Linked DNA regions of Homo sapiens. The protein of the gene in region 4 interacts with the protein of the main gene of each other region in a pairwise test. Each region holds a gene or a part of one and is shown on either strand. Other genes may lie near its edges. The genes, in order: FAM135B, MT2A, FAM117B, ICAM5, RAB3IP, CNST and CRLF3.

Region 1 (4,859 bases), on a different chromosome or scaffold from region 4:
AGCCCACATCCATCTTGATTGTCTGGAAAATTCCTACCTATCCTTTAAAACCTAACTCATTGTCATCTCCAGGGATCCTCGTCTGACTCTGTCCTATGTCCTGTTCCACTTCTGGGCTGCCTTAATGCCTTAGGCATTATTTTATTTTTTGACTTATCACATTTTACTCTCATTGCTATTACTTGTCGAGGCTCCAACTAGACAATGTGCCCCTTGAGGGCAGGGCCTGTCTCATTGAATTATACATCCCAGTCATCAATTTCAGTGGCTGGCACACAATAGGACTGAACAGAAGTTTCATAATCTAATAAACATGTGACTGTTTATTACACAAAGGAAGGATCTGGCACAGTAACATCGAGATGAGCTATGTTTGTCCTATCACTAAGCTAAGATAAATGCAGCACTAAACCTATAGCCCAGGTGTTCCCAATAGGCAGTCAATTCCATGAATTTACTTTTGCTTTTCAAATTAGAAAGTCCCTGAGCAAAAATTAAATGTAGCTTACCTGTGTGTCTGTCTTTGAGGGCAGTTTTACACATTTCAATCCTGGCTGAATGAAATGGCACATAACGGTCTTGGGGAGAAGCAACCAGCACGACGTTTTTAAAATACTGCAGCCCTGTAAAAATTAGCCAGATGAGTGCTTTTTACCCAGGTAGTTTCAACTTCAACACCCTCTGGAAATTTGCACAAATTTCCAGACTTGTCCTATAGAGAGAAAAAATGTTGACACACCACACACTAGTGTCATCACACAAGGACATTCTGTCCTGAGGTTTAACAATGCACAGCAGATGGCATAGAGGTATCGCGGGGGCCTATGGGAGGTTGAGAAAAGAAGTCACTAAGCAGGGGCTTTGCGTTTGTGAGGGGAGATGAAGCCTGCTCTCATCAGCCATGAAAGCTAAGGAGACACACAGAAAGCTACTCTGGACACAGAGAAATAAGCAACTAGAATGGGACCAAAAAAGCCTTTTGGGGATAGAAATATTAAGGGGTTCATAAGGAAAAGTCAGTCTGACTATCTTGTTCTTCCTCCTCAACTCCAGCACCTCTCCTAATTCCAGCCTTCACCACGTCCCATGCTTTAGGAAAACAGCCTCAGAACTCACCTCTCTGCAGCCAGTCTTGCCTTCCTGCAATCTGTCCCCACAATGCAGACAGAGGGACCCTTCAAATTAAACATCACAGTGTATCCCTGCAGGCCTCAGAGCCCATCGTGAACTTCCTGAGCACTGCAGACTACCCGGACACTCCATCTGTACTGAGACTGTCCTTCTCATTCCCCAGATCCTGCTGGGTGGGCGGCTGTCAGCTCTTAGCTATGTGTGCCCTACTGAAGTGTGGGTCCCCTCATCAGACATCACACATTGGGGGCAGCCTACTTCAACAGCTGGCCAATACATGGGCGAGGAAGACAAAGGTGTAATGGTCAGCCCCTCCCCTTCCTTCAGGACAGCTCTCCAGGGCCACCCCAGCTCCTGCACCCCTGATGGACTCTACAGTGATCACACTGCAGTCCCACCTTCTTCTGCCAAGCCCTGCCTCCCTCCTCCTCCTCCACAGGAGATAGCTCTAAGAGCTCAACTCAACACACAGAGGCAGAAAGTAGGAAAGGAACTCAGCCAGGCTCACAGATGAGCCCGTGGCTACACCAGATTCACAGGCACAGAGGGATCAGCAGAGTCAGTGTTTACAGGACGGTGGAAGATTGTGACCAAGAACAGACCCTGGGCCAGGCCAGCTTGTGTGGTGGGACTGAGCAGGGCAATCAGTCAGCTGCTCCACTCGCCGACTGGACATGGGGACCACTCGGCAATGATCACCATTACTGCTGTCCTCTGTGGACATTCCCATGTAGCAGGTAGGGTCTTCAACACCTCTATGCACTTCCACATGACAGAGAGAGGGTGCAGGTATCATAGCAGGCCTGCCTGACAATGACCCCCGTCTCCCACTGCACAGTCAACATCAGTGGAAAATGTTGCATCTGCCTTTTTTGTAGATGGGCCTGTACCTGGGTGAAGCTGGCACACAGATCTTAGGCCTATGCAATGAGAACATTGAAAAACTGGCACAAAGTGGAAGCTACAGCTTCTGGCTATTGAAATGATCTTACACACACCTTGGCTCAATCTCTCACGTGCCATATGGGCAATGGGCAAGAGGAGCTGAGTTCCTGGTAGCTGTTGGCCTCCCAATGAGCCAAAGAGGCTTTGAGTGCTGGGCCTCCTGACTAGGCCCTTCTGTGAGTGAATCAATGTAGCATTATATCTCATTTGTGTCTCAGGAGTTGAATCCCAAGCTCAAACTCATAACTGCAGCTGTGGGGGAAACCACTGACCTGTTTTTTGGCTTAGTTGGTAGAGGAAACATTTGCGCAAATCAGCATTATCCCTGAAGGTCAGCTGCAGTAGAGACCCGGATTTCTTCAGTTTCTGCATGAGCCATAAGCCTAGGAAGACAAAAACAAAATAAAAATCAAAAACACAAAACAAAACAAAAACTAACTGGGATGGAATTTTGGTGAGATGAACGTTAAACTGAATTTTAGTTAACTTGAAAATAAGAGAGAAGTAGGCATACTAGCAAATAGTTGGGAAGTTAGAGGTAAATTTGTCCTCTCACGTACTGGTGGAAAGGACTTAAATCATCCTGCAAAAATGATGACAGGACAACAGCCTTCGGAGTAAGAAACTACCCACACTCTTCAATCCAGTCAATCTCCTTCCGAAAAAGAAGCCTAGGGTAATAATTTTCAATGCGAAAAGAATATAAAATGATCCTTACAGATACATTTAGGATACAGTAAAGCTAAAATAAATGTCTCACTTCACAACTCATCTGTTGGCTGGGCATGGTGGCTCATGCCTGTAATCCCAGCACTTTGGCAGACCGAGGCGGGTGGATCACCTGAGGTCAGGAGTTCGAGACCAGCCTGGATAAAATGGTGAAATCCCGACTCTATTAAAAAATTAGCCAGGCATGGTGGCAGGCACCTGTAATCCCAGCTACTTGGGAGGCTGAGGCAGAAGAATTGCTTGAACCTGGGAGGCAGAGCTTGCAGTGAGTCGAGATTGCACCATTGCATTCCAGCCTGGGCGACAAAAGCAAGACTCTCTCTCAAAAAACAACAACAACAACAAAAATCTCATGCGTTTAGCTAAGCTTAGGCAAACACTAACATTGATGAGTGTAAGGATTACATAACCACAACAAGCAAATTAATCTGATAGAAACACAAGGAAATAAGCAAGCTATGGTATGTACATATATTACACTGACTGCTACGTCAATGTGTGTGCACAAAGATAAGTAGAATGAAATATATAAAATTACTCTGGATATGCTAGATTGGAGATATTATTGGTAAAGTCTGTCTTTTTAAAAAATATTTTATGATGCTGCAAGATTCCTTTATAACTGTGGGGGAAAAATGTAGTTTAACAAATTTGTTTCTGTCCAAAGAATGGCTTCCTTGGTTTGGGAGGAAAGACAGAGTGCAGAGGAAAGGACTTCCATTTGTTATGTGCCATTGTGTCGGATAACTCATGTTCACAAGTATGCCATAAAATAACTTAAAAGCAAACTAACTAAACTGACCAGGCCATGAGGAAACAACGTTAGTGTGGGAGAGGACAGGGGACAGTGGCAGAGGCCTGGAAGATTGCAGGGACAAGGAAGCTTATCAGGGGTGACCCTAATGCCACATAATGGGTTTGAACAATCAGGGACTACTGAGGTAGTTGTTAAGAACATGATTTAATAAACGATTTGTTATTACATATAAAACTCAATGCCCTCCTTGGGCTTCCATACACCAAACCATGTCACCTCCTCAGTAAAATCTCATGAGTAGTATCTACAAGGTCTACAGGGTAAGTCTAACATATTCTGGAGTCAGTCGAGGTCCTTCTTTGTCTGACTCTTGCTGATATATTTAACCTCCCATAGATGTTAGTCAACCTTATTTCCTTCCCCTGTGTAATCTTCAACAATTCTATGATACACATATGCACATATGCACCTACACACCATATATATGTATACATACTTACATTGTGTACATGCTTGTACACATACATATATGTATACATACATATACACAAACACAGATACACACACACATAACCTCCATTTTACAAACAGGAAGACTGAGGAGCACAGAGATTAAATGTCTAGGCCACAGTCTCCCTCAAGTGTCCTGGTCAGGACTTAACCACAGGTTTGTCATGCAGGTGGCCTGATTCAGAGTCCCTGTTCTCTTCATCACAACACCGTGTCTTGTCAGTCTTTTCCAACCAGGACCCCAGAGACATTGCCTTTTTTTCACAGAAATTTGAAGGCAGAAATGATCCTGGAAAACATCTAGTGTCACCTCACTCAGCCCCCAGACACAAGGGCCACACCTCTAAGGCCAGGACTCCTCCCTCCATGCCATGCTTGGAAAAGACTGCACAGTCACAGGGTTCCAAGTGGAAGTACCTGTGCCCGGTTTCACGCCCCAGAGGCCCCAGATTAATTCTGAGGAATGACGAGTCCTAGAAGAATCTTACCTGTACTAACCAGGGTGCTGTTGTTGTACAGGGTTCCCAGGTGAGGCCCAGAGAGTGACAGGAACGTGTGGAGTTTGTTGAGGTAATACCGGAACCGGGGCCGTGTGAGGACCGATCGGATGATGATGTTGCCAAGAGAATGGCCAATGAAGCTGTGGAGAAACAGAAGGGGTACCCATGAGTGTGACGGTGAATGCTGCTGCCCAAGAGTGCAGTGCTGGAAGCATCAGGGGCCATTGTTCTCCACCTCCCACTGAATGTAGGGGAACTGGCAAAGAGAACAGGGACTGCCAACTCAA
Region 2 (2,884 bases), on a different chromosome or scaffold from region 4:
TTTTGTGTCTTTTAAACTTTCATTTTCTTATTAACTCCTTATTTTACCAGAGTTTAGGTCTGTGACTAATGGAGAACAAAACAAAACAAAACAAAACTGGTCATTCCCCACAGGGAGTTTGGGAAACCGGATGTCAGATTCCAGCCACTGGGGAGTTGGATTTCACCCTCTGTAGTCACTTTCAAGTCTAAAATCCCACGAAGAACTGAAGTTGGGCAGGGAAATTGAAAGTAAAAGTGAGGAATGGAGAAGTTTCTGTGCCACATTTGACGTGAAACTGAAAGTGATCATGTATGTGTCCCTCCTGCTCCCATATGATCTGGCACAGCGCCATTCAGTTTTACAGAAGCTGAAGCTCAGTGCAGTAGCCTGGCTTGCCAGAATGCACTCTTTCTTAACGGCTCACATTTCCATCCACAGCCCAGGTCTCTGCCCTCCCAGTTCAATCCCTCACCCCAGTCCGTTATTTTTAAGGCATATAAAGGAAACCAGAGACAGAATCAAGTCAAAGCTGTTTTATTATCATTCACATTATTTCATAGAAAAAGGAATATAGCAAACGGTCACGGTCAGGGTTGTACATAAAAAATCCAGGTTTGTGGAAGTCGCGTTCTTTACATCTGGGAGCGGGGCTGTCCCAGCATCAGGCGCAGCAGCTGCACTTGTCCGACGCCCCTTTGCAGATGCAGCCCTGGGCACACTTGGCACAGCCCACAGGGCAGCAGGAGCAGCAGCCTGGGGGCAGACAGGAGGCGGCAGAGATGAGTACTAGCGACACCGGGAATAAGGATTCCTGCTCTCCCTGATAAGGATCACTGAGGAGGCAACAATTTCCGCGCAATGGGGCATCCCCAGACTGCTTTAATTCCCCTGAGGATGGTGGAGAGGGGACAGGCTGGAGGACAGGGAAGGGGTAGAGGAAAGAGAGGATCCCACTTACTTTTCTTGCAGGAGGTGCATTTGCACTCTTTGCATTTGCAGGAGCCGGCGCAGGTGCAGGAGTCACCTGCAAGGAGAAAAGACAGAGGTGAGAACCGTCCCTGGATACCTGAACAAGGGACGGCGTACTAAGAGCCCGGGGCCGAGTTCCTCAGTCCACAACCGATTCCTGGGAACTTGAGCAAGCCATTAACTCAGATCTCCTTAACGGTAAAAAGGGGGCTCCGAATAACCTAGAATGGAGAGAAAGATACCCCAAAACTCTTTGGGAAGGAGCAACTCCTGTCCTGAAATTGAGTGACCAGAGAAAGAAAGAGGGGTCAGAAATTGCTTCTCTAGCGCTACAGTCTACACTGGGCATCCCCAGCCTCTTACCGGCGGCGCAGGAGCAGTTGGGATCCATGGCGAGCTGAAGAGGCGGCTAGAGTCGGGACAGGTTGCACGCGGGTTCGCTGGGACTTGGAGGAGGCGTGGTGGAGTGCAGCGCGGCAAGCAGTGTTTATAGCTAGAAAGAGCCGGGACGAGTGCAAAAGCCCCGCCCCGGCCGGGCGCTGCCTGCACACGCCCCGCGCTGAGTCACTTGCGGCTCCAGGCGAAACACCCGGCCGCGCGCACTGGGCCGGGCGCACCCGGCTCTGCACACGGGCCGCGGGCGGTCAGTTCCCTGAAGGCGGCCCACTTGCGCCTCGGGGACGCCTCGGCGCGGAAGGGGCTGGGTGCAGCGGGAGGACACAGTGTACCGGGTGCTGGGTGCCCACGCCGTGCGCCTCCGCCGTGTGCACAGCTCCCCTCCCTCCTGTCCTGTACTCGAACCTGAGCCGTTAGCGCGCGGGTGAAAGCGGGACTTGGGAATGCTGCTTGCATTCCCAAACCGGTTGGAAGTGCAGACAGGTTACAACTCTGTAGCAGCCAAGGCTTAATAATTGTGCAGCATCACAGTAAACCCGTGGGGTGGTTACTGATGACGTATCCGTTGCATGTTGAGTACTTTTAGCGTGTAACAGGGACTGTAGGAAGTGTGTTGTGTGTGAGATGTCACTTAATTCTGTAGCAACCCATAAGATAAGGACTCTCCAGTATTCTCATTGTAGAGAGGAGAAACTGCAGGTCCAGAGAAGTTAATTTGTCCAGAGTCACACAGCCAGTGAGTGGCAGAGCAGGGTGAATGCGACCAGGCCCCAGCAGATGCTAACGGCCCTCTAACATAGAGACACCAAGGAGGAAGAGTAAGGAGAAGAAGCCACAAGCTTGGTCCTCAGGAAGCTCAGGGGCTGGGGGAACAGAGAGGAGGAGACCCCATCCAGCCTGGGAGGAGGTGGGCCATTGCCTTGGGCCTGAGGGTCAGAAGGTGTTTGCCAGGCAGGGAGTGGGAAGGATTTGTGTTCTAGCCTGGGAGGGAGGAACTAGCGGGAACACTGGAATCGCCCTGAGACATTTGGAAGGGAAAAACCCCACAAGAATATTCTTCCCCTGTGGAGGCTGAGGGGAAGAGCCCAGGTGGCGTCCACATTCCTGTCTGGAGAGGCACATCCTGCCTCCCTGCCTGCGCGTGTCTGGCGCTGTGTAAGGGCCTTAGATCGTCAACCTTGGAAGGCCCGAAGTGTGTCATGCTAGGAGTCAGGAAGTGGTTACTGGAAGCTTCCTGGCAGGCTTAGGGAATGCCGATTGCCACAGTGAAAGTTTAGTGAGGTGGTGGGCGGGGGAGGACAGGCTGTCCTTGCAGCCCTTACTGTAAGTTCCTGTGGAAATGTCTTTCTAGCTCAGCCGAATCGTCACTTCCTCTGGGGACCCTGTCCTGACCCCCATGACCGTGGCTGCCTGTGGAAGGTGCTGGTAAACATCCTGTTCTTTCCCCTCCTGGCGCTTTCCGTGCCTGTGGTATGTATAAACTGCGGGGACTCTTGGATTGGTGTCTCTGCCCCTCCTCACCAACCCCTGACCACTG
Region 3 (4,859 bases), on a different chromosome or scaffold from region 4:
CATGGGCTGAAGAATACTCTGAAAAGAAGAAAGGGTCTCACAAGCGCTCAGCATCTTGGGGCAGTACAGATCAACTTAAGGAGGTCAGAAAAATGGTTCTAAGATAGTGGGTGTGGAAATATGATCCTTTTGTTGGCTATTTCCTTGATATTATGGGCAGCAAGGATTTGTCGTTTTCCATTGATTTCTTTTTTCTTTTTGGCTTCTGAAATAACAAAAACAATTATTGTGTTGATTTAATAAAGATTTCAATAGGGATATTTATATATCACTTACCTGATTATGTATGTTTGTCTTTTTTTAGGAGAATTCATACCTGTCTATTAACATCAGATTTAAAAATTGTAACAATACAACAAATTCACATTTATTCTTTTTTTTTTTTTTTTGGGGTGTGCATGTGTGTGTGTGAGACGGAGTCTCGCTCTGTTGCCCAGGCTGGAGTGCAGTGGTGCGATCTTGGCTCACTGCAGGCTCTGCCTCCCAGGCTCAAGCAATTCTCGTGCCTCAGCCTCCCAAGTACCTGGGACTGCAGGTGTATGCCATCATGGCCAGCTAATTTTTGTATTTTCAGTAGAGATGGGGTTTCATCATGTTGTCCAGGCTGGTCTCTAACTCCTGACCTCAAGCAGTCTGCCTGCCTTGGCCTCCCAAAGTGCTGGGATTACAGGCATGAGCCACCGCACCTGGCCACATTTATTATTTTTCTATATATGGTGGTGTTTCTGAAATGCAGTACTCACTATAACCATGATGGTTATGGCTCCATGCTATGATTACCATTTTCTGTGCTGCTAATTAGTGACATTTTCATTTCACACATAATGTAGAAATGCAAAAACTCGGTCAAAGAATAAATAAGATATTCATTGGAATTGCATTCGTTATTTAAAGATGATATCTGTGAATATATTTCATGACTTGAGTTGATTTTTAAATACTGTGTAATTTTTGGAACTGTTGAAAGCTAGGTGTTCAATAAATCTAAATTGAAATAAAAATTAACTTATGGTAAAGGCAATGAGAATGATTGTTATTTTTTTAATTCTTCGTGAAAACTGTAATGTAATTTATTCTAAGTGCTGAAAACTATTTGTGTAGTACTTGGGAAGCTCGAAGGCTGAGAACAATGTTGGAACATATACACATACATGCATGTGTAGATGTGTATAAAATTATGAACAAAAAATGAGACTTTGTGATATGGTTCAAAAATTCAAAGGACTTATTAAGGGTAAGTTTTACTGGTTCTTATTAAGCAAGGATGTGTTTTTGTTTCATGTAGAAAACACTCTGGTGTACTTGCTATTTTTGCTTTCTCAGATTGCAAAATTACGCCAGCAGTTGCAGAGAAGTAAACACAGCAGTCGGCATCATCGAGATAAAGAAAGACAGTCTCCATTTCATGGCAACCATGCAGCTATTAACCAGTGTCAGGTAAGAGTACCAATACCACAAAATCCAGAAAAGGAATTTGTTGTTTTTCTGGTGATTTGTTATTTCATTGGTAATTGTTTAGGACAAAAATGCTCAAAAACATATTTGAAACAGTGATTTAAATACTGAATCACAGTCTTTATAAGAAAACAGAATATTAAGTTGACAAAATGATATTTTCCTTTAGTGACCTAAGATACGACTTCTAGGAGACATAGCTACTTATCTATTTTGGTTTACCATATTTTTGGCTTTATCAGTTCAATATTTTGGAGGCAGAATGACACAGAGAATTAAGCATTGGGTATGGAACAGGCCCTGGCTGAATAACTTATCTTTTCTAAGTCTCAGTTTCCTCATGTGAAGATGGGAATAATAATACCTGTCTCGGGCGGGGAACATCACACACCAGGGCCTGTTGTGGGCTGGGGCGATGGGAGAGGGATAGCATTAGAAGAAATACCTAATGTAAATGATGAGTTAATGGGTACAGCAAACCAAAACGGCACATGGGTATGTATGTAACAAACCTGCATGTTGTGCACATGTACCCTAGAATTTAAAGTATAATTTAAAAAAATGTAAAAAAAAAAATAGCTGTCTCATAGAAGTCTTTTGATAGAGACAAACCTTTATCTGCTTTGATTTTTTAGTAGAACCCATGAACTGCTCTTGATGGCTCATCCATCCAAAGAACACTTTTTTTTACTGAATTGAAATTGGATGAGATCTCTTGGCAAGGAGAAAGCAAGTTCATTTCAGGTCTTTTCAGGATCTTTCAAGTTCCAGAATTGAAGCTTTGGGAATGAGGAAGGCTGGATTGAATTTTCCATGTTAACAGTAAGGCAGCAGGGCCTGGAAGGTAGAGGGAAACTAGAAGACTTAGTTCTGTGACTCTCAGGTTGTTTTATAATACTGGAGTTGGCAAACTGTGGCCCGGGAGCCAAGAATGTCCCACCATGTGTTTCTGTAAATAAGGTTTTATTAGAAAACAGTCACTCTCATTTTTTATGTATTGTCTATTGCTCCTTTTTGTGCCACAAAAATATACATTTGACTCTCTATATCTTCAGGTTTTGCATTTATGGATTCAACCAACCATGGATCAAACATATTTTTGGAAAAATAGAATAGAATATGTATAAATATAAATATATTTTAAAATATAATTAAAAGTACAAATAAAAATACAGTATGACAACTATTTACATAGTATTTACATTGTATTAGGTATTATAAGTAATCTGGAGATTATTTAAAATATACAGGAGGATGTTCCTAAATCATAATGCACTTACCATGCCATTTTATATAAGGGACTTGAGTATCTGTGGATTTTGGTATTTGGAGGGGGGTCCTGTCCTGGAACCAGTCTTCTGAAATTGAGTAGTTGAAACAGAGACTGTCTGGTTCACGAAGCCTAAAATACTTACTGTTTGGCCCTTTACAGATAAGGCAGGCCAACCCCTTTTATAGTTTGGTAGTGTCTGATGTTTGTTAAATGTATAGATTGTTTGCAATGGAAAGTATGGGTAAAGGTATAGACTTTTTCAAACTGATTTTGCCCCAAAATATTAATACTCGGGTCAGATTTGATTTCACAGGTTTATAGAGATTGTTTTTTGTTTGTTTTGAGACAGGGTCTTGCTCTGTCACCCAGGCTGGAGTGCAGCAGGGTGATCACAGATTCACTATAGCCTCGACTTCCTGGGTTTATGTGATCCTCCCACCTCAGCCTGCTGAGTAGATGAGACTACATATGTGCACCACCATGCCTGGCTAATATTTTTTATTTTTTATTTTTATTTTTGTAGAGATGGGGTCTGTGTTGCCCAAGCTGGTCACTAACTCCTGGCTTTGAGTGATTCTCCCACCTTAGCCTCTCAAAGTGTTGGAATTACAGGCATGAGCCACTATGTCCAGCCAAATTTATAGTTCGATTATAATTTCCAGTAACTTTTTTCTATATTTGATATTTTAATTAAAAACATGGTTATACATTAGTATTCGTGTATATTCTGTACAAACTAGATTTATTTCTGGAGAAATAGAAATTTTAAATTGACAAAATAAGAAATGAAAAATTTGTAAAGACTAATAACTTTTGAATTTGGAATGTTAATTAAAAACCCAGTCTCACTCTCAAGAGGCTGAAGACCCAGATGATTTTACAGATGAATTTGCCAACCTTCCCCTTCCTCTCATTCATTCATAAATAAATGGTATGTGTTTCTAAAAAATAAGGCCACTTTTTACTCCCAGTCCATATTTTTACTCCAAGTAGAATAGGGATTAGGATGGAATTTTATTGAATTAAGTGGCTAGTTTTAGGACTTCAGAAGTTTCTGAAGTGATTATTTTTTAAACTTGTGTTAAAACCAACAATTTTAAAGTGGTTATTCAAATTTTCATTTTTTTCTTCTTGCAAGTTGAATTTACTTAATAAAGATTATTGGAATTTACTTGAAATTTATATTTAATTTAAAAACATTTCCTTGCAGAGAGGGTAAGGACAAGAAAATAGAGAAACTTGAAAAATAGTTCATCTAGTTTGAGTTTTGTACACTTGACACATCAAGCGTCTTAACTGTTTCTCCCATTTTATTTAGTGTTATCAGCCAACCGCAAGTCAGGCACATGTGCATCATGATAGTAATGACAGTAGTACTCATGTTTAATTGAAACTCACGCTGGCCGGGCACGGTGGCTCACGCCTGTAATCCCAGCATTTTGGAAGGCTAAGGTGGGTGGATCACCTGAGGTCAGGAGTTCGAGACTAGCCTGGCCAACATGGCGAAACCACATCTCTACTAAAAATACAAAAATTAGCGAGGCTGGCGGGTGCCTGTAACCCCAGCTACTTGAGAGGCTGAGGCAGGAGAATGGCTTGAGCCCAGGAGGCGGAGGTTGCAGTGAGCAGAGATCGTGCCACTGCACTCCAGCCTGGGTGACAGAGTGAGACTCCATCTCAAAAAAAAAAAAATTTAAAAAGAAACTCTTAGGCTGTAAACATGAAAATAATTTCTATTAAGTTATTGTTTTGGTGGGTTCTCTATCTAGTGGAGAAAAGTGCCACACGATACATGTGTACTTCTGAGGCCATTCATCAGCCCATACAATATTTATTAATCATTTTGGCCTGTGACCGTAGTACTCATTAGGGGATGTGGTGATAAAAGAAATATTGTCTGTCCTTACCAGTTCTCATATTAAAGAGATATGAGTAAACAGTTAATTATAACACTGTATAATGAATGTGTTGATAGGGAGAATTCAGAATGCAACAGAAGATGTGTTTATTTGGAAAAGGATGGAGTCATCTAGAAAGACGTCTCAGAGAAAATGGTGTCTAGCTGATCCTTGAAAGATAAGTATAAGGTGGAAAAAGTCATGTCCCCAGATAGGAGTAGTGGTAAGAGATT
Region 4 (3,522 bases):
CCACGCAGAATCCAGCCCAAGTTTTAAAGTCCTTTCCTGCAGCAGTGACAGCCCCGGAGGGTCCCTCCCCTTGAATTCAGTCCCCCTGCCACCTCCATCTCCCACCCCTCAAAGTGCGATCAACAGCCCCACCCGCTAAGGCACCTTTGACTTCTACTCTGTCCCACTTCCGTCTAGTCTACCGGGACCGAGAGGGAGGCAGGCGGGGCCGGCCGCCCCAAGACCCAGGTCACGCCCCCTCTCAGATACCTCGCCCCGCCTCTCCCCAGCTGCCACTTACCGGCCACGCGCACCGTGATGCGCCGCGCGTGGCGCCCGTGCGCGTTGGTGGCTGCGCACTCGTACTCGCCGCCGTGGCTTCCCATGGCGCCTGCCACGCTCAGTGTGCTGTTGTTGCTCGACAGGCCGATGTTGAGGGCCCCCGGGGGCGCGCGCCAGCTGATCTGGGCTGGAGGCCAGGCCTCCGCGCGGCAGGTCAACGTGAAGTTTCCTCCTGGGCGCACGCCTCCAGGGGGCGAGGCAGCAAGTTCGGCCACCACTGGCCGGTCTGAAGGGCACAGAAGGTGAAGTGGGGCTTAGCGCCGGCCCAGCCACTGATCAAATGCCCTGCTCCGGCCCACAACGATCGATGGGAGACCACCGCGCCTCTGATGGGCAGAAGAGGATCCTGCCTCCTATCAGAGCCTCCTTCCCCGACAATCAGGCTGCTGTTGCGGCTAAAATTCCTCGCCCTTCTTCACCGAATGGAAGGAGGTGAAGCCCAGGTCAGTGTTCTAATCCAGGATTTGAGGAGGGCCGTGCTCCTATTCCCTATAATTTTCTTTTTCTGTTTTTCTAAGAAAGAGTCTCACTCTGTTGCCCAGGCTGGAGTGCAGTGGCGGGATCTCGGCTCCCTGCAACCTCTGCCTCCCAGGCTCAAGCGATTCTCCTGCCTCAGCCTCCCAAGTAGCTGGGACCACAGGCGCCCACCACCACGACCGGCTAATTTTTGTAGAGACGGGTTTTCGCCATGTTGGCCGGGCTGGTCTCGAACTCCTGGCCTCAAGTGATTCATCCGCCTCAACCTTCCAAAGTGTTGGGATTACAGACCTGAGCCACTGCGCCTGGCTAGAATTTTCATTACCCCCTGGTTTAGGCTGGAATTCCCTGTCCCCGAGAATGGGATTGGGAGAGGTGCCCTTGAATGCTCCCACCGCTGCGAGTCATTCTTCCGAGGACCGTGTCCCCTCCATCCGGTGCTGCCCCCACTCACATTCCACGCCCACAGTGACGGTCCGGGAGTCCGTGCCATGCGCATTGGTGGCCACACAGTGGTAAGTGCCCGCGTCCTCTCGGGACACGCGCTGCTGCTCAGGCCATGGGATGCCTTCCCGAGAGCAGCGCACTCCTGGGGAAGGGCGACCCCGGGCGGCGCAGGCCAGCGCGGAAGCCTCAGCCCCTTCCAGCCACGTCTGGTGACTTGGGCAGGTAGATTCATCCATCTCCGGTGGCGCTGCAAAGCAGCCATGGGGGATGTCAGGGAGTGCCTGGACCGTGGGGCACCCCTGCTCCCTACCCGCCTGGGCCTCGCTCACACTCCGCGCTCACGACGACTGTTTTGGCCACGGAGCCGTGGCGGTTGGTGGCGTTGCAGACGTAGATACCGGGTGCCAGGACTCTAGGGATTCTGGGAGCTCTGGGACTAGGGTCTGGGGGTGCCAGCGGCAGCAGCACCCCCTCAGTGGCGCCCCCGGAGCCCACGCACTTCACGCTTGGCTGTGGCTTCCCATCGACCTCACAGGAAAACAGGCGCCCAGATCCTTCCACCCATGTCCAATTGCTGGGGCAGCTCGGCTCCTCAAACCTGGGGCCATCTGGGAAACAGGATTGCAGGGGCTCACACGGGGGCCAGGAAGTCCAGCCGGGGTTGTCCCACAGATCCTGCCTAACTCCGCGGTGCCCCTACTCACATTCCACCGTGACGGCCACATTTTTGGCCGCAGAGCCCCGAGGGTTGGTGGCTTCGCAGCGGTAAGTGCCCGCATGCTCCCGGGCCACACGCAACAGCCCCTCGATGACGGCCCCGAGTTCTCCAGAGCGCACGCAGATCACATCAGGCGGCGGTACCCCGTGCGCCACACAGCTCAGCGAGGCTTCTGTTCCCTCCAGCCAAGTAATGCGTTCTGGGCAGCCCACGCTGTCCAGCGCTGGTGCGTCTGGAGGAGGGAGTGTATTGTTGGCTTTGGGGTTTGGGGGCAAATCTGACGTCCCTAGACCCTCCTTGGCGCGGCAAGGCTTCCACGAAGTGTTGTCCCTGCATAACCCTTGGACGCCGATCCAAGGAGGTGTCACGCTAGTCGAGGCATGCACTCTGTCTGGGAGCTTCCTGAGCCACCAGTGGCGCCTTTTTCGTCTAAAAACTTAAACACTCTGGACTGCCCGCCTTTCCACGACTCCGCCCAAATACCACGCCCTAGGCTAGGGGCACGCCCACCCGGTCCCTTCCATCCTCCAAGATCTTTCTCCAACCCCACTAACCAGCCTCTTCCCTTTCCCAAAACCTCACCCAAAGGGACACCTCATACCCTACTCCTACTCTTCCCTGGAGGCTGGCCACCCTCCAGACCTTGAACCAGATAGAAATGCACCCTGCGCACCCCCACTCACACTCCACCGTTAGCGTTACGTCCTTGACCGCCTCGCCTTGATCATTGGCCGCCTTGCAGCGGTAAGTGCCTGAGAGCGCCCGAGTGACTGGACCCAGCAGGCCCAGAGCCAGCACGGCCCCGCCGTCGGAGCGCGCACAGTGCACTGAGGGTTCTGGGTTCCCGCGGGCCTCGCAGCGCAGCGTCTGCTCTGGGCCCTCGGGCCACGTCCAACTCCTGGGGCAGTCCGAATCGTCTAGCCGGGGAGCGTCTGCGGGCAGGGCGTGGGGTTACAGAGGCTTAGACGTAAGAAATGGCTCCGCCTCCACGACACGGTGAGGGAGCAGGCGGGTCCTTGGAAGTCACCAGAAGGTGGGGGGCGAGGGGTTATCACCAACTCACATAGGACACGAAGCTCTGCGCTCCTGTTCTTGATCAGGGTCTCCCCGTCCACATCGAGGGTGGCGTCGCAGAAGAAGCTGCGTCTGTCGTCGTTCTCGGTGGCATTTAGCTGAAGCTGGGCGGGCTGCCCCGGGACCGCGGCTGGAACTCCCTCCAGTGTGACCAGAGCTTGGGCCCCAGCTGCGCAGGTTACTGTCACCATCTGCCCCTCGGAGACGCTGGGTTCGCTCAGGGTCAGGAGTGGTGCCGGGAAGCCTGGGGGCGGAGCATTTGGTCGTAGTATACTGACCATACCCCTCCCTCCGGTCAAGGCCCGCCCCTTATCTGCCCGAATCCTCGGGGTGCTGAGAACGAACTAGGGTACGGCGCCCCGCCTCTCAGGCTGTACAGGCTCCTCCTCCCCAGCGATTACGTCTCCGCCCCCACCTGCCCCGCCCCTCGGGCCACGCCTGTTCCGGTACTGAGGTCCCGCCCACTCTTCGCCCCGCCTTCGCAT
Region 5 (4,859 bases), on a different chromosome or scaffold from region 4:
TGCACTGGGAATGAGGGGATGGAGGCATATATACGTATGGAAAACATTCAGAACAGCTTCATTTATATTTATTCACAAACACACAATTATTCCAGTTAATCTTCAGAGCATTCATTTGAAATGGTTCTTATCCCTACTTTACAGATATATAAAAAAAAGAGGCTGAGAGAGATTAATTTTGTCAAATACACAAAAAGTAACAGAGCTAGTATTCAAACTCTGGTGTGTCTGACTCTAACACCTAACTCCACTACATCTGAGATACACTTAGAAGCTGAAATGGATAGGGAGTAGGGAGATGGGAATAAAGGTTAAAGCACAGCAAAGGATCTCTAAGAAGTGAACAATCCTGGGTGCAGTAAACCACCATGGCACGTGTATACCTATGTAACAAACCTGCATGTTCTGCACATGGTATCCCAGAACTTAAAGTTTAAAAAAAAAGAAGTGAACAATCCAAACAGAATAATAATGTTTAATCTCTGAACCCTTCTCTTACTTTCACAAAGACAAAACTGAAGTTTCTCTAAAGCACTGCTATTGAAATGAGCATTTGCTATTGCTTTGTGTTCTATTATTTTCCCCTATATTATTTTTGTTATCATTTCCTCCTCTGTTTTGTTACTATGCCAGAATTTAATACTTATTCAGCTCCTTACAGGACTTGGAAAAAAAAAAACAGCACATAAATCAAAATAAACAGAAACTTGAATTTACTATAGTACCCATATTCCTGTGTATTTTTTTAAAAAGTGTAGATATTTTATACCAAGGAATTAGTGTTAATTTTTGAAAATTTGTAATAATAAAAGCAGGAAATGTAGATTAAAATGAAAAAATAAATAAAGAACAAAGTTTGTAAAAGTACTGCAGTTAACTGCTCTTATCTTTGGGAAATACTGAAATACCTACAGGTGAAATTACACAGGACTTGCAATTTGTTTCAAAATAATATAGAAGTGGGAGAAGTGGATGGATGAGGACTGATCACTGTTGATAGTTACTGGGCTACATGATGGAAACTTTTAGGTTCATTATACTATTGTGTCTACTTACCTTATTTGAAACTCTCCATAATTTATAGTGCTCTCAAAATAAAAAGGAAAGTTCAAAATTTATTCAAATACTGTATAATAAAGGAGGAAAAAACAAAACAAGTATATATATAAAATCATTTTTTCATTAGCTTTCATAATAATTTTAAAGTTGGCTTCCCAAACTAGCATTTTAGTTATGACAAAAAAAATCACATTTATCTTTTAAGAAGCATTCTATGTTTATAAATGCAAATGTAATTAATAGCCCAAGGGCAAAATTACTCAAATGGTCAATCAGGCTACACAATTTTCCCATTTTTATTATAATAGATCACAAATGAATTCCCACTAATTCCACAATACTTTTTTTTTTTTTTTTTTGAGATGCAGTCTCGCTCTGTCGCCCAGGCTGGAGTGCAGTGGCACAATCTCGGCTCACTGCAACATCTGTCTCCTGAATAGCTGGGATTACAGGCGCCTGCCACCACACCCAGCTAATTTTTTGTATTTTTAGTAGAGATGGGGTTTTGCCATGTTGACCAGGCTTGTCTCGAACTCCTGACCTCAAGTAACTGTCTGCCTCAACCTCCCAAGTGCTGGGACTACAGGTGTGAGCCACCATGCCCGGCCTAATTCCACAACACTTCAATGTACAACCTGACATGTGTAGAGATGTTAGTTATTGCAGTGTGTTATGTTGACAGTTTTCAGAAAATGTTCTGAACTTATGAGCTAATATTATATTTAATTACAAATAATTATTTGTAATAATACAATGAGCTAATATTTAATTACAAATATTTATTTGTAATTAAATATTTATTTAAATTAACAGAACACCGCATGTTCTCACTCATAAGTGGGAGATGAACAATGAGAACACACGGACACAGGGAGGGGAATATCACACACCAGGGCCTGTGGGGGAGTGGCGGGCTAGGGGAGGGATAGCATTAGGAGAAATACCTAAGGTAGATGATGGGTTGACCGGTGCAGCAAACCACCATGGCACGTGTATACCTATGTAACAAACCTGCACATTCTGCACATGTATCCCAGAACTTAAAAGTATAATTTTTTAAAAAAATCATTTTCCAAATTTCTTTTTCTCAATAATGGAAGCTTCATTTTACATATTCTCTTAAGAATATATGCCAACTAAACATTCAACAGGTGCTGAAATACGCACTGACTAAATAAATAAACAAGAGTCTTTAGAGAAGGAATGAATAGCAAAGCGGTAAAGAGTGGAGACAGTTATTCAGGCTACATTTTTGCTGAAAAAGATAGAAATGAAACAGTAAATACTTTGCGAGAGTATCAAAACTGGAGAAATTGAAGTTTGAGAAAACCTGAGCATTTTAACAGACTAACTTCAGAAAACCTTCCTTCTAGTTCAGATTCTGTCACTGACAAGCTGTGTGAACTGACGCAAGTCATTTAATCTCTCTAAGGTTCAGTTTTGACATCTATAATGGTAGTGATATTATCTCCCCTGCCTACATTTGAGAAAATCAAATGGCATATCAATGTAAAAATGTATACATTGTAAAGCACAACATAAATGTATGATTTTATAAAGATCTAAGAAAGAAAAAAATGTAATGGGGGAAATAGCAAAAGCATACTGAGGGGTTTGTCTTACAAATCAGAAGGTATCTTTATTTATCTTAGGTAAAAGGAAAGAAAGGGAAAACTAGTCTTTATGAGGCATGTAGTTCAAATATGATTCTTTTCCCCACAGGGAATTGATACAAATTTGCTTATTGTTTTTTCAAACTTATTTTGGTTTTTCTTTTATACTTTATCCTTATCTGACAACCAGATGCTCCCAAACAAATATTCAATACTATTACTTTTATCTGGGCATATCAAATTACAATTCACTTATTTAAGTGGTTCTAAGCTATCATCTATATGCTCCTTTATGCTCATAGGGCATTCTCACATTCTTGAATAGTTTCTTCATACTAAGCTGTCAATTCATATACTTATTTGTGTATGTATCCATACCCCTCAGAGGAATTTCATCAACTGCCATTATGATTATATTTACAATCCTACTGTTAACGACAAGCATCAAATCTTTCATGAACTTGAACTATTTGAATAATTTTCATTCTTTTTCCTCTAAGTAATATCAGTTTACGGCTATAGTTATCTAATTTCGTGTTGCCCTATATTCTAAGATAAATCAGATTACTTTTTCCACTTTTCTCTAACCATGACTATGTACGATGTAAGCTTATAAAACTACCTCATTTAGTGGTAAGTTGAAAAGGAAAGCAGAAGGGAAAATAGAGATAGCAAGTTAATGCTCCCAGTTGTATAAATATCTTCCTCTTCCTTCCTTTGTCCCTTCATTTCTCAATGTTCATTTCAATTTCTACTGCTAGAGCAGCTTCAAAACATCCTAACATTCTTCAACTGATCATCCATCACCAAACACAGCACAGTACTTACCTGGCCCGATGTTAAAGCTATAAAATGAGGTAAGCCCTACTCTCGAAGCACTTGTAGACTAGAGGAAGAGACCACCTTGCCAATAAACATGTTTCTAGGGCCCTAGAAACAATTACAAATACAACACAAATATCAAAGTTCATAAATACCAAAAAAGAGGTACTCAGTATTATAAAAGCATAAAATTTTTAAAAAGAGTACCATCTGGTACAACTAAGGATAGTAGCATAAAAAAGGAGAAACAAGCTAGAAAGCAGTTTACAAAAGCTCAGATATTTTGTTTTTAGGATATCAAATGCGTAGTAACCAATTTACTATCCTTTGATGAACTGCATCTTAATCAGAATTATATCGGAAAAAAGTTTAGTGTGAAAAAGCGTACTCCCTTGGAATATCTTCAAAGCTTTCCCTCATTACCTCAATGCACAAATATCTCTACCCACTATCCATCTGTCCTTCCTCTCCACTACTCAACTATCCTAGCACTTTGTCTTAGTTGACATTCATTAAAATATGTAAAGTGCGTTCTACATTTTGAAGAACTTATAAAAGATATGGGAATGATTATAAGGCCCTACCTTCCATATTCCTTAAGAACAGTTTCCTTTAACCCCTACTGTGACTTGCAGAGTAGATGCTCAATGAGTATTTGATTTAAAAAAATCTCTGGTGACACAATGAGAATTACATATTACATTAACATTACGTATCTCATAAAAGCTAAATTACAAAGTTCTTCAGCATTATAAGCTACACATAAAGAAGTGATAATGTAGTGATTATGAGCAAACAATTCTTTAGCATTACCACTTATACATGAAGAAATGACAGAGTGTAGTGGTTAAGAGCACAGACATGGAAGACAAACTGTCTGACATCTAATCTAGACCTGTCACTTAATTAACTATGTGACGTTGAGCAAACTACATAAGGTCTCAGGGTCTCAATTTTCTCAACTACAAAATAGGGATAAAGTATTATCTCCTCGCTCACTCTGAGAGTAAATGAGTATAAAGCTTACACCAGGACTTCGCTTGATAAGCACTAGACTTAAAAGTAACTGTAGTAGCAATGCTGGTATCACCGTCTTCAGAAAACTTGGATATTTTTAAACCAGAAATACAAATGGTAACACTTGTCATCTGTGTGCCTCCTTATAGTTACAAAGCTCTTTAATAGAAGGTGCAGACCAGGAATGTAAGAAACAAAAGCACTACGTTCCATTTTGGGCAGTCGGATACAGTTTTTAATACCGGCTCTGTCACTGGCCAGCTGTACGACCACCTACAACTAAGTAACCATAGACAAATTATCGCAACTTTCTAAGCCTCCATTTCCTGACTTGTAAAATTTGATAAA
Region 6 (4,859 bases), on a different chromosome or scaffold from region 4:
ATCTTAGTAATCTTCAAAACAGCCTATTAATTTGGCAATGTCCCGTCAAAAGCTAGAAAAGGGAGGGCAAGATGGTTCTAAAAACATAAAAACCTAATCCAATTTTTAAAAAATTTTAAGGTAAAAACATGTTAGAATGAGACTTCCAAATGTTTCCACTCTGGTGCTTGCCTGAAGTCTGAAGGCCAAGTTCCCATGGATTCCTACAGGCGAAATTAATCTCCTTTATCTTAAAGCACTGTGGATGTGGGTGGAGGGTAGGGGGTGGTAGCCAAGGGAAGGGGTAATAGGATAAAAAGAATTAAGAAATATAATTTGTGGCTGGGTGCGGTGGCTCACGCCTGTAACCCCAGCACTTTGGAAGGCTGAGGGGGGTGGATCACCTGAGGTCAGGAGTTAGAGACCAACCTGGCCAATATGGAAAAATCCCGTCTCTATTAAAAATACAAAAATGTGCCGCGCGTGGTAACATGCCTGCGGTCCCAGCTACTAAAGAGGCTGAGGCAGGAGAGTCACTTGAACCTGGGAGGCAGAGGTTCCAGTGAGTGGAGATCATACCACTGCACTCCAGCCTGGGTGACAGAGTGAGACTCCATCTCAGAAAAAAAAAAAAGGATGTAAAAACATAATTTTTATGTGCTTCTAACTCTAACACAATTAAACCAAAACAAATTTACGAATTATGACATGCAAAAAAAATCAATAAAGTTAAAATAATAGTCACTGAACACGATGCTGCTCTGTAAAAATTAAAGTTTTGTTCACTAGTGGAATACGGTATACACTGTGACTGCACGGTTATCATAGGCACGTGAGGATCCAACTCTCCCACCACCAATTACTGAGAAATCTTTGTTTCTTTTTTTTTTTTTTTTTTTGAGACGGAGTCTGGCTCTGTCGCCCAGGCTGGAGTGCAATGGCGCCATTTCGGCTCACTGCAAGCTCCACCTCCCGGGTTCAACCAATTCTCCTGCCTCAGCCTCCAGAGTATCTGGGATTACAGGCGCCCGCCACCATGCCTGGCTAATTTTTGCATTTTTAGTAGGGACACGGTTTCACCATGTTGGCCAGGCTGGTCTTGAATTCCTGACCTCAAGTGATCTGCTCGCCTCGGCCTCCCAAAGTGCTGGGATTACAGGCGTTACAGGCGCGAGCCACCGCGCCCAGAGAGCACTGAAATCTTATATGAGAATGTTGTTTTAAAGTGTCAGTATTGTTCTTGAATAAGCTTATATTATTTTTTATCATTGAAATAAAAATAGGGAATTTTTAAAAATGCTAATTACTTTTTTCCTCTTCCACTTCTCTGTATTTTACATATTTTCTATGATAAACTTGTATTTTTTCTAGTTGAGTTTCATGACACCTTTATCGACATATAATTCATATACCATACAATTCACCCACTTAAAATGCACAATTCAATAGCTTTTAGTATTCACAAATTGTACACAATCAATTCTAGAACATCTTATCACCCCGAAAAGATCCCCCCTGCCCTACATACCCACTAGCAGTGATTTCCCATTCTCCTGCACCCCCACCACAGCCCCAGGCAATCACTCAAACCACTCATGTACTTTCTGTCTCTATAGATTTACATATTCTGGACATTTCACGTAAATGGAATTATACAATATGCGGTCTATTGCAATTAGCTTCTTTCACTCAGCATGTTTTCAAGGGGTATCCATGTTGTACTATATACTGATACTTCATTTCTTTTTATTGCCAAAGAATCTTCCACTGTACAGATATACCACCTTTTATTTATCTATTCATCAGTTGATGGACATTTGGGCTGTTTCTACTTTTTGACTCCTGTGAATAATGCTGTTATAAACATTTGTGCACGTTTTTGTCTGAACACTTGACAAAAGGTCAGGAGGTCAGGAGTTCAAGACCAGCCTGGCCAACATGATGAAACCCCGTCTCTACTGAAAATACAAAAATTAGCCAGGCTTGGCGGCGGGTGCCTGTAATCCCAGCTACTCGGGAGGCTGAGGCGAGAATCACTTGAACCCGGGAGGTGGAGGCTGCAGTGAGCCAAGATCGTGCCACTGCACTCCAGCCTGGGCAACAGAGTGAGACTCTGTCTCAAAAATAAATAAATAAATAAATAAATAAATAAATAAATAAAATACTTGAGGAAGATTTGTTCAGATTTGTTCTTTGACTCACTATGACTTTCCTTCATAATCTATTAAATTATTTTTGTTTTAAATAAAATACTACTAAAAATGATGCTTTTACATAGGAATCCTTATAAAGCCATAGCTGCTTATAAGAGAGATTTAGGAAGGACATGCAATAACCAACCAAGTCAAACTGATGCTGTGGTTGTTGTCCTTTTTTGAGTAACATATTCCTTGAAAAATCTGATGAAAGTTGAGAATTCCCTCTGAAAAATACACGTATTGTGCTTTGGGAGGCCAAGGCTGGAGGATCGCTCCTGGAGGAGGCCAGGAGTTCTAGACCAGCTGGGGCAACACAGGGAGGCCCTATCTCTGCAAAAAGTTAAAAAAAAAAAATTAGACTGCATACCTGCAGTCCCAGCTACTAGGGAGGCTGAAGTGGGAGGATTGCTTGAGTCCAGGAGTTTGAGGCTGCACGGAGCTATAATCTTGCCACTGCATGGCAACCTGGGTGATAGTGCGACAAGCTGTCTCTAAAAAAAATTTTTTTTAAAGAAAAAGAAAAAACACGAATTTTTGAATAACCATGTTTTCCTCAAGTTAAAATTTATTTATCTTTTTAAAAAATCTTTGGAGCGGCTGGGAGCGGTGGCTCACGCCTGTAATCCCAACACTTTGGGAGGCCGAGGCGGGCGGATCACAAGGTAAGGAGATCGAGACCATCCTGGCTAACACGGTGAAATCCCGTCTCTAATAAAAATACAAAAAATTAGCCGGGCGCGGTGGCGGGTGCCTGTAGTCCCAGCCACTCCGGAGGCTGAGGCGGGAGAATGGCGTGAACCCAGGAGTAGTGGAGCTTGCAGTGAGCTGAGATCACGCCACTGCACTCCAGCCTGGGCAACAGAGCGAGACTCAGTTTTATTAAAAAACATCTTTGGAGCATTATTACTTCTGTAATCAAGAAGGAAAAAAGAGGCAAAGATGTGTACTTCTACCCCCCACCACTTCGAGTTTCTAATAAAATATGCCTATTCTGACCTGTCAGCTTTCCATGGAAAAAACTAAAAGGTGAGGGAAGGCAGAATAATCTATAGAGACATTCTGGGCACATTTTTTCACTTACACTGAAGAGCTGGAGGAAAATGGAAACTCTCCAGCAAAGGCTATACAAAGTACGTGGTTTTACACAAAGCGTTACACAAGTACATGGAAGCTTTAGTTACAAAACAGATATTCTTAGAATATGTTTCCTCAGCCCAGATAAGTGTTCCTGGAGCAGAAATTTTGCTCATAAGGTTTTTGCACTCGCAGCTGTTCTCTTTGAGGCTTCAGGGAAGGCAAGCCATGGACACACAGGTTAAAGCTCTGTTGGCATTCACCGGGCAATCCCTAGGTTTTCCCCAGCTATGCAGTGGAGACAGGAAGGATAAAAAGCCCGCAGGCATCAGAATGCACGAAACTATAACCAACCAAGAGGCCACCTGATATAATAAAAACTAACTTCTTGAATTAAATACTATTTTACTTTAGGTTATTTTGAAATACAGCTTTCTCTGGCTAGTGAAAAGATGAGCTTTGGTGAATATATGATCTAACAGATTAATTTTAAAACAAAAGTTCAAATGTAATGGTAATAAGACAATCTTCTTCCAAGTCACAAGACCTATATTACATGATTAAAGTAGGGAAGAGCAAGGGTATTACCTCTAATTTTGGCTCTTTACAGTGCTTATCCAATGCTACAGGTATAACTCTAACTGGCATGCCGAAGAACTCCACAACAAAATTTTTAAAATACTTGTAGCAAGAAGAATCTAGAGATTGCTGTGTAAATCATTTAAAATAAAGCCTGATGGCTGAATTTGAATTAAGATGCCAAAAATGGGTATCAATAATGACTTTTCCAGGAAACTACATTTCACAATATCATAACCAGTATAATTTGCACAAACGTCCACCCCTCTTTTCATGTGAGTTGACGCTGAGGGAGGAAATCCTGTTGGTTACATGAATCCTTGTAAGATCCAATTTAAGTAAACTTTTTCATGCTTCACAAGTGGAAAAAAAAATCTAAAATGTTAGTTGTTGTTTCATGAGGTAAAAACAAATAACTCAGGCCTGGTGCAGTGACTCACACCTGTAATCCCAGCACTTTGAGAGGCTGAAGTAGGCACTCTGCTCGAGCTCAGGAGTTCAAGACCACCCTAGGCAACATGGCGAAACCCTGCTTCTATTTTTCTAAAAAATTAATAATTAAAAAAACCACATATCACACACATAAATAAATAACTCCACTATTTATTATTCAATAAATAAAACATACATTTGGCTGGGAGTGGTGGCTCACGTCTATAATCCCAGTATTTTGGGAAGTCAAGGCAGGAGGATCACTTGAGCCCAGGAGTTCAGGACTAGCCTGGGCAAAACAGTGAGATCTCATCTCTAAATAACAAACCACACACATTTTCACAAAAATCCTTATTGAAAAATCTTAGGCAATGTTTTTCAGTTCATCTAAAAATTATTTTTAAGATTTAGTTGTATACTGGGAATAAAAGCTGCAGAAGAGAAAAATAATGAACAAGGACAATGCATACAAAAAATCAAAATATAAGCAGTATACTATCAAATACTCAAGGACAGCAGCATTTGATCTTATAAAGTTCCCAAATTTTTTAATAACTTATTTCAAAATCTATAATATAAAAAAGTATTTAATTCATT
Region 7 (3,614 bases), on a different chromosome or scaffold from region 4:
GTTTGTGTTTATTTATTAAGAGATGGGGTCTACCAATGTTGCCTAGGCTCACTGCAACCTCGAATTCCCAGGCTCAAGCAATTCTCCCACCTCAGTCTCCTGAGTAGCTTTGGAACTACTGGTGGGCACCACAACACCTGGCTAAATTTTTTTTTTTTTTTTTTTTTTTTTTGAGACAGAGTCTTGCTCTGTTGTCCTGGCTGGAGTGCAGTGCCAAGATCTTGGCTGACTGCAGCCTCCACCCCCCGAGTTCAAGCAATTCTCCTGCCTCAGCCTCCCATGTGGCTGGGACTACCAGCGTGCGCCACCACATCCAGCTAATTTTTGTAATTTTAGTAGAGACAGGGTTTCACCATATTGGTCAGCCTGGTCTCGAACTCCCGACTTCAGGTGATCCACCAGCCTAGGCCTCCCAAAGTGCTGGGATTACAGGTGTGAGCCACCACACCCAGCCAAATTTTTTTTTTAAGTGAATAAAAAATGGCTAGGCATAAGCCACCATGCCCAGCCAAAAAATCAATTCTTGTGATCATATCATCACACAAACTCTTCCCTCCTAGCACATAGGTTTGGAGTACTAGGTTCCCTTACTTACTTGAACAGAATGATTTTTTTTTTTTTTTTTTTTTTTTTTTTTGAGACAAAGTTTTGCTTTTGTTGCCCAGGCTGGACTGTAATCATGTGATCTCAGCTCACTGTAACCTCTACCTCCCGGAGGGTTCAAGTGATTCTCCTGCCTCAGCTTCCTGTGTAGCTGGGATTATAGGCATCTACCACCATGCCCAGCTAATTTTTGCATTTTTAGTTGAGACGGGGTTTCACCATGTTGGCCAGGCTGGTCTCAAAACTCCTGATCTCAGGTGATCCACCTGCCTTGGCTTCCCAAAGTGCTGGGATTACAGGCGTGAGCCATCACGCCCAGCTAATGAGTTCATTTTTTTAAAAAAAATCTTCACAGTTCAAGAAAAAAAGTCAGTATTTAAATTAGTTTCAAGGACAGACACAGTGGCTCACGGCTGTAATCCCAGCACTTTGGGAGGCCAAGGTGGGAGGATCACTTGAGGCCAGGAGTTCAAGATCAGCCTGGCCAACATGGCAAAACCCCATCTCCACTAAAAGTATAAAAATTAGCCAGGTGTGGTGGTGCACACCTGTAATCCCAGCTACTTGGGAGACTGAGGCAGGGAAATCCGTTTAACCCAGGAGACAGAGGTTGCAGTGAGCCAAGATTGCACCACTGCACTCCAGCCTGGGTAACAAAGTGAGATTCTGTCTCAAAAAAAATTAGTTTCAGAGTTCCAAATATTACCACTCCTGTCTCAAATTAGGTTTAAGGCACTCCTGTGAACAGGCAGATTCTATAGGTATAAATTAAGATGTCATTTCCCTAGAGAGGCTAAGAAATAAATACATTCAACAAATATTTGATGAATTAAAGGAATGAGATGAAGATATCTGGAGAAAACGACTCATTCGATCCACCATTCATTCTGCACACATTGTGTCAGGCAAGATGCTCAGTATCAGACACAGAATATAGGAAAGTACAAGTAACCAGCTGGGTGTGGTCACTCATGCCTATAATCCCAGCACTTTGGAAGGCCAAGGCTGGGGAGGACTGCTTGAGGCCAGGAGTTTGAGACCAGTCTGGACAACACAGCAAGACCCTCATTCTCTACAAAAAATATTTTTAAAAAAGTTTTTAAAAGAAAGTACAAGAAGGTACACATACCCTTTCACAAGTCACAGTGATATCTTACTAAAATGCCTGGAGCCACAAGAAGCCTGTTTTCCCTTCAAATGAAAAGTAGGTTAAAACTGGATTCACCAAATCTCACAGAAGAAAAAAGTACACACACTGAACTTTTTTAGTTTTTTATTTTGATTCCTATGGCTGGACAAGGTATCTACATTCTAGAACATCTTCTTAATCCCTAAACAAGTGGAAATCTACTACTTATATATAAAAAGACAAGTAGAAAAGGTCATGATTGTCTAACAGGGAACATGAATCCCCAAATAAATTATCTTACAAAAATATCATACTTGCTTTTCTACTTTTTTACTATACTGGTAAAAATGAAATGAAAAAAATAATTCACATTAAAATAAAATCTGTAGGGTGGCATAGAAGACAATTATTTTTACATATTAAAGTCCTTCAAATAAATATTTTACACACAAATTTAAGTAAGTTTTTAAAAAAAATAAGTATTTACGCTATATTTTTTTGCTCTGCTAAAAAGAGACCACTTATTAAACTGACATTAAACTGGACTGCAGCTCATTCTCTGCAAAGAGTAAAATGCATGTCACAGGCAGATTGGATACACACGTGCATATTACATACATATGAAATGGCTAACACTGCTGTGCATACTACTGCCATAACTAGTTTTACCCTGTAAAAATACTGTAGCCTATACTGTATCAAATTGCAATGAAAGAACAAAAGGTACTACTTGCCTATTTTAGACACTTGGTCAAGCATTTAAAAAAATACAAAAATTGGTCCACTGCAGTGGCTCACACCTGTAATCCTAGCACTTTGGAAGGCTGAGGTGGGTGGAACACCTGAGGTCAGGAGTTCAAGACCAGCCTGGCCAACATGGTGAAACCCTGTCTCTACTAAAAATACAAAAATTAGCCAGGTGTGGTGGCCGACGCCTGTAATCCCAGCTACTCAGGAGCCTGAGGCAGGAGGATCGCTTGAACGTGGGAGGCAGAGGTTGCAGTGAACTGAGATCACACCACTGCACTCCAGCCTGAGTGACAAGAGTGAGACTCCGTCTCAACAAAAAAAGAAAAAGTTATAATGTTTTGGGGACTTAAAGATTACTGAAGAGGGGATAAAAGTCAACACTGCTTACAAATACCTGAACATGGAGAGCACAGTCAACACATTCATGTGGACAGCACATGAACGGATGTATTAATACATTACACAGCTTCTTCTATCTGACCTATTCCTCTTGTTCTAAAGAGTTACATGGACTTGGATCCTTTAAGATGATTTTAAAAATAATATTACATTAAGTTTTCCTGGTCTAATAACCAACTTTGAGAAGTACAGTGGAAGGGTATAGAACTTCCTATATCTTCTATACTTTTAATGCCAATTTGATTTTTATTGTGATGTGATATTTAACAGTATGCTAAAAATAAAATTGACTGAATTGTATGATTTTGTCCACAACATTGAAGTCTCTTTTTGCTAAAATATTACAAAATGAATCCAGTAAACACTTTCCAATGGCCTAAGTTAGAGATGAATTCAACTTTTTTTTTAAAGCAATTACAACTACGCTGGGCTGAGGACAGCTACGTTAGACCCTGAAAACCAAAGCCAAGCACCCAAACATCTAAAACACTAACACTTTCCATCCAGGATAGAAAAATGAGCATCCAAAGTAAAGAGAACCACAAGACTGATCAAGTAACCAGTCAAAAACCACTTCTCTATTATTTGAACTTATAGTTACTCGAAGCTTGAAGTGTCCACCTTCATTATTACTGGTGGTTCCTAGAGTCACGGCTTCAATGTCAAACGTGACAGTGGACCCAGAAGTAACTGCGGGTAACTGATTTGTCATTTCTTTTCCATTGACAAAAAC

Evidence for each region.
Region 1: the proteins of ICAM5 (region 4) and FAM135B interact in binary tests that used the Homo sapiens proteins (3 or more experiments, as listed by UniProt).
Region 2: the proteins of ICAM5 (region 4) and MT2A interact in binary tests that used the Homo sapiens proteins (3 or more experiments, as listed by UniProt).
Region 3: the proteins of ICAM5 (region 4) and FAM117B interact in binary tests that used the Homo sapiens proteins (3 or more experiments, as listed by UniProt).
Region 5: the proteins of ICAM5 (region 4) and RAB3IP interact in binary tests that used the Homo sapiens proteins (3 or more experiments, as listed by UniProt).
Region 6: the proteins of ICAM5 (region 4) and CNST interact in binary tests that used the Homo sapiens proteins (3 or more experiments, as listed by UniProt).
Region 7: the proteins of ICAM5 (region 4) and CRLF3 interact in binary tests that used the Homo sapiens proteins (3 or more experiments, as listed by UniProt).

Annotation. Positions count from the first base shown.
Region 1 is NC_000008.11:138,136,638-138,141,496, forward strand, and holds part of FAM135B (protein FAM135B), read right to left. Parts: intron 4,713-4,859; coding exon 4,561-4,712; intron 2,460-4,560; coding exon 2,349-2,459; intron 713-2,348; coding exon of another isoform or gene 672-712; exon of another isoform or gene 630-671; intron 624-629; coding exon 510-623; intron 1-509.
Region 2 is NC_000016.10:56,607,114-56,609,997, reverse strand, and holds MT2A (metallothionein-2), read right to left. Parts: upstream 1,415-2,884; 5' UTR 1,343-1,414; coding exon 1,315-1,342; intron 1,007-1,314; coding exon 941-1,006; intron 736-940; coding exon 644-735; 3' UTR 501-643; downstream 1-500. UniProt on the Homo sapiens protein: Metallothioneins have a high content of cysteine residues that bind various heavy metals; these proteins are transcriptionally regulated by both heavy metals and glucocorticoids.
Region 3 is NC_000002.12:202,724,927-202,729,785, forward strand, and holds part of FAM117B (protein FAM117B), read left to right. Parts: coding exon 1-83; intron 84-1,323; coding exon 1,324-1,437; intron 1,438-4,859.
Region 4 is NC_000019.10:10,292,371-10,295,892, reverse strand, and holds part of ICAM5 (intercellular adhesion molecule 5 precursor), read right to left. Parts: intron 3,282-3,522; coding exon 3,027-3,281; intron 2,896-3,026; coding exon 2,647-2,895; intron 2,196-2,646; coding exon 1,950-2,195; intron 1,854-1,949; coding exon 1,575-1,853; intron 1,493-1,574; coding exon 1,253-1,492; intron 548-1,252; coding exon 281-547; intron 1-280. UniProt on the Homo sapiens protein: ICAM proteins are ligands for the leukocyte adhesion protein LFA-1 (integrin alpha-L/beta-2).
Region 5 is NC_000012.12:69,741,251-69,746,109, reverse strand, and holds part of RAB3IP (rab-3A-interacting protein isoform alpha 1), read right to left. Parts: intron 1-4,859. UniProt on the Homo sapiens protein: Guanine nucleotide exchange factor (GEF) which may activate RAB8A and RAB8B. Promotes the exchange of GDP to GTP, converting inactive GDP-bound Rab proteins into their active GTP-bound form.
Region 6 is NC_000001.11:246,572,254-246,577,112, reverse strand, and holds part of CNST (consortin), read right to left. Parts: intron 1-4,859. UniProt on the Homo sapiens protein: Required for targeting of connexins to the plasma membrane.
Region 7 is NC_000017.11:30,780,825-30,784,438, forward strand, and holds the end of CRLF3 (cytokine receptor-like factor 3), read right to left. Parts: coding exon 3,363-3,614; 3' UTR 1,860-3,362; downstream 1-1,859. UniProt on the Homo sapiens protein: May play a role in the negative regulation of cell cycle progression.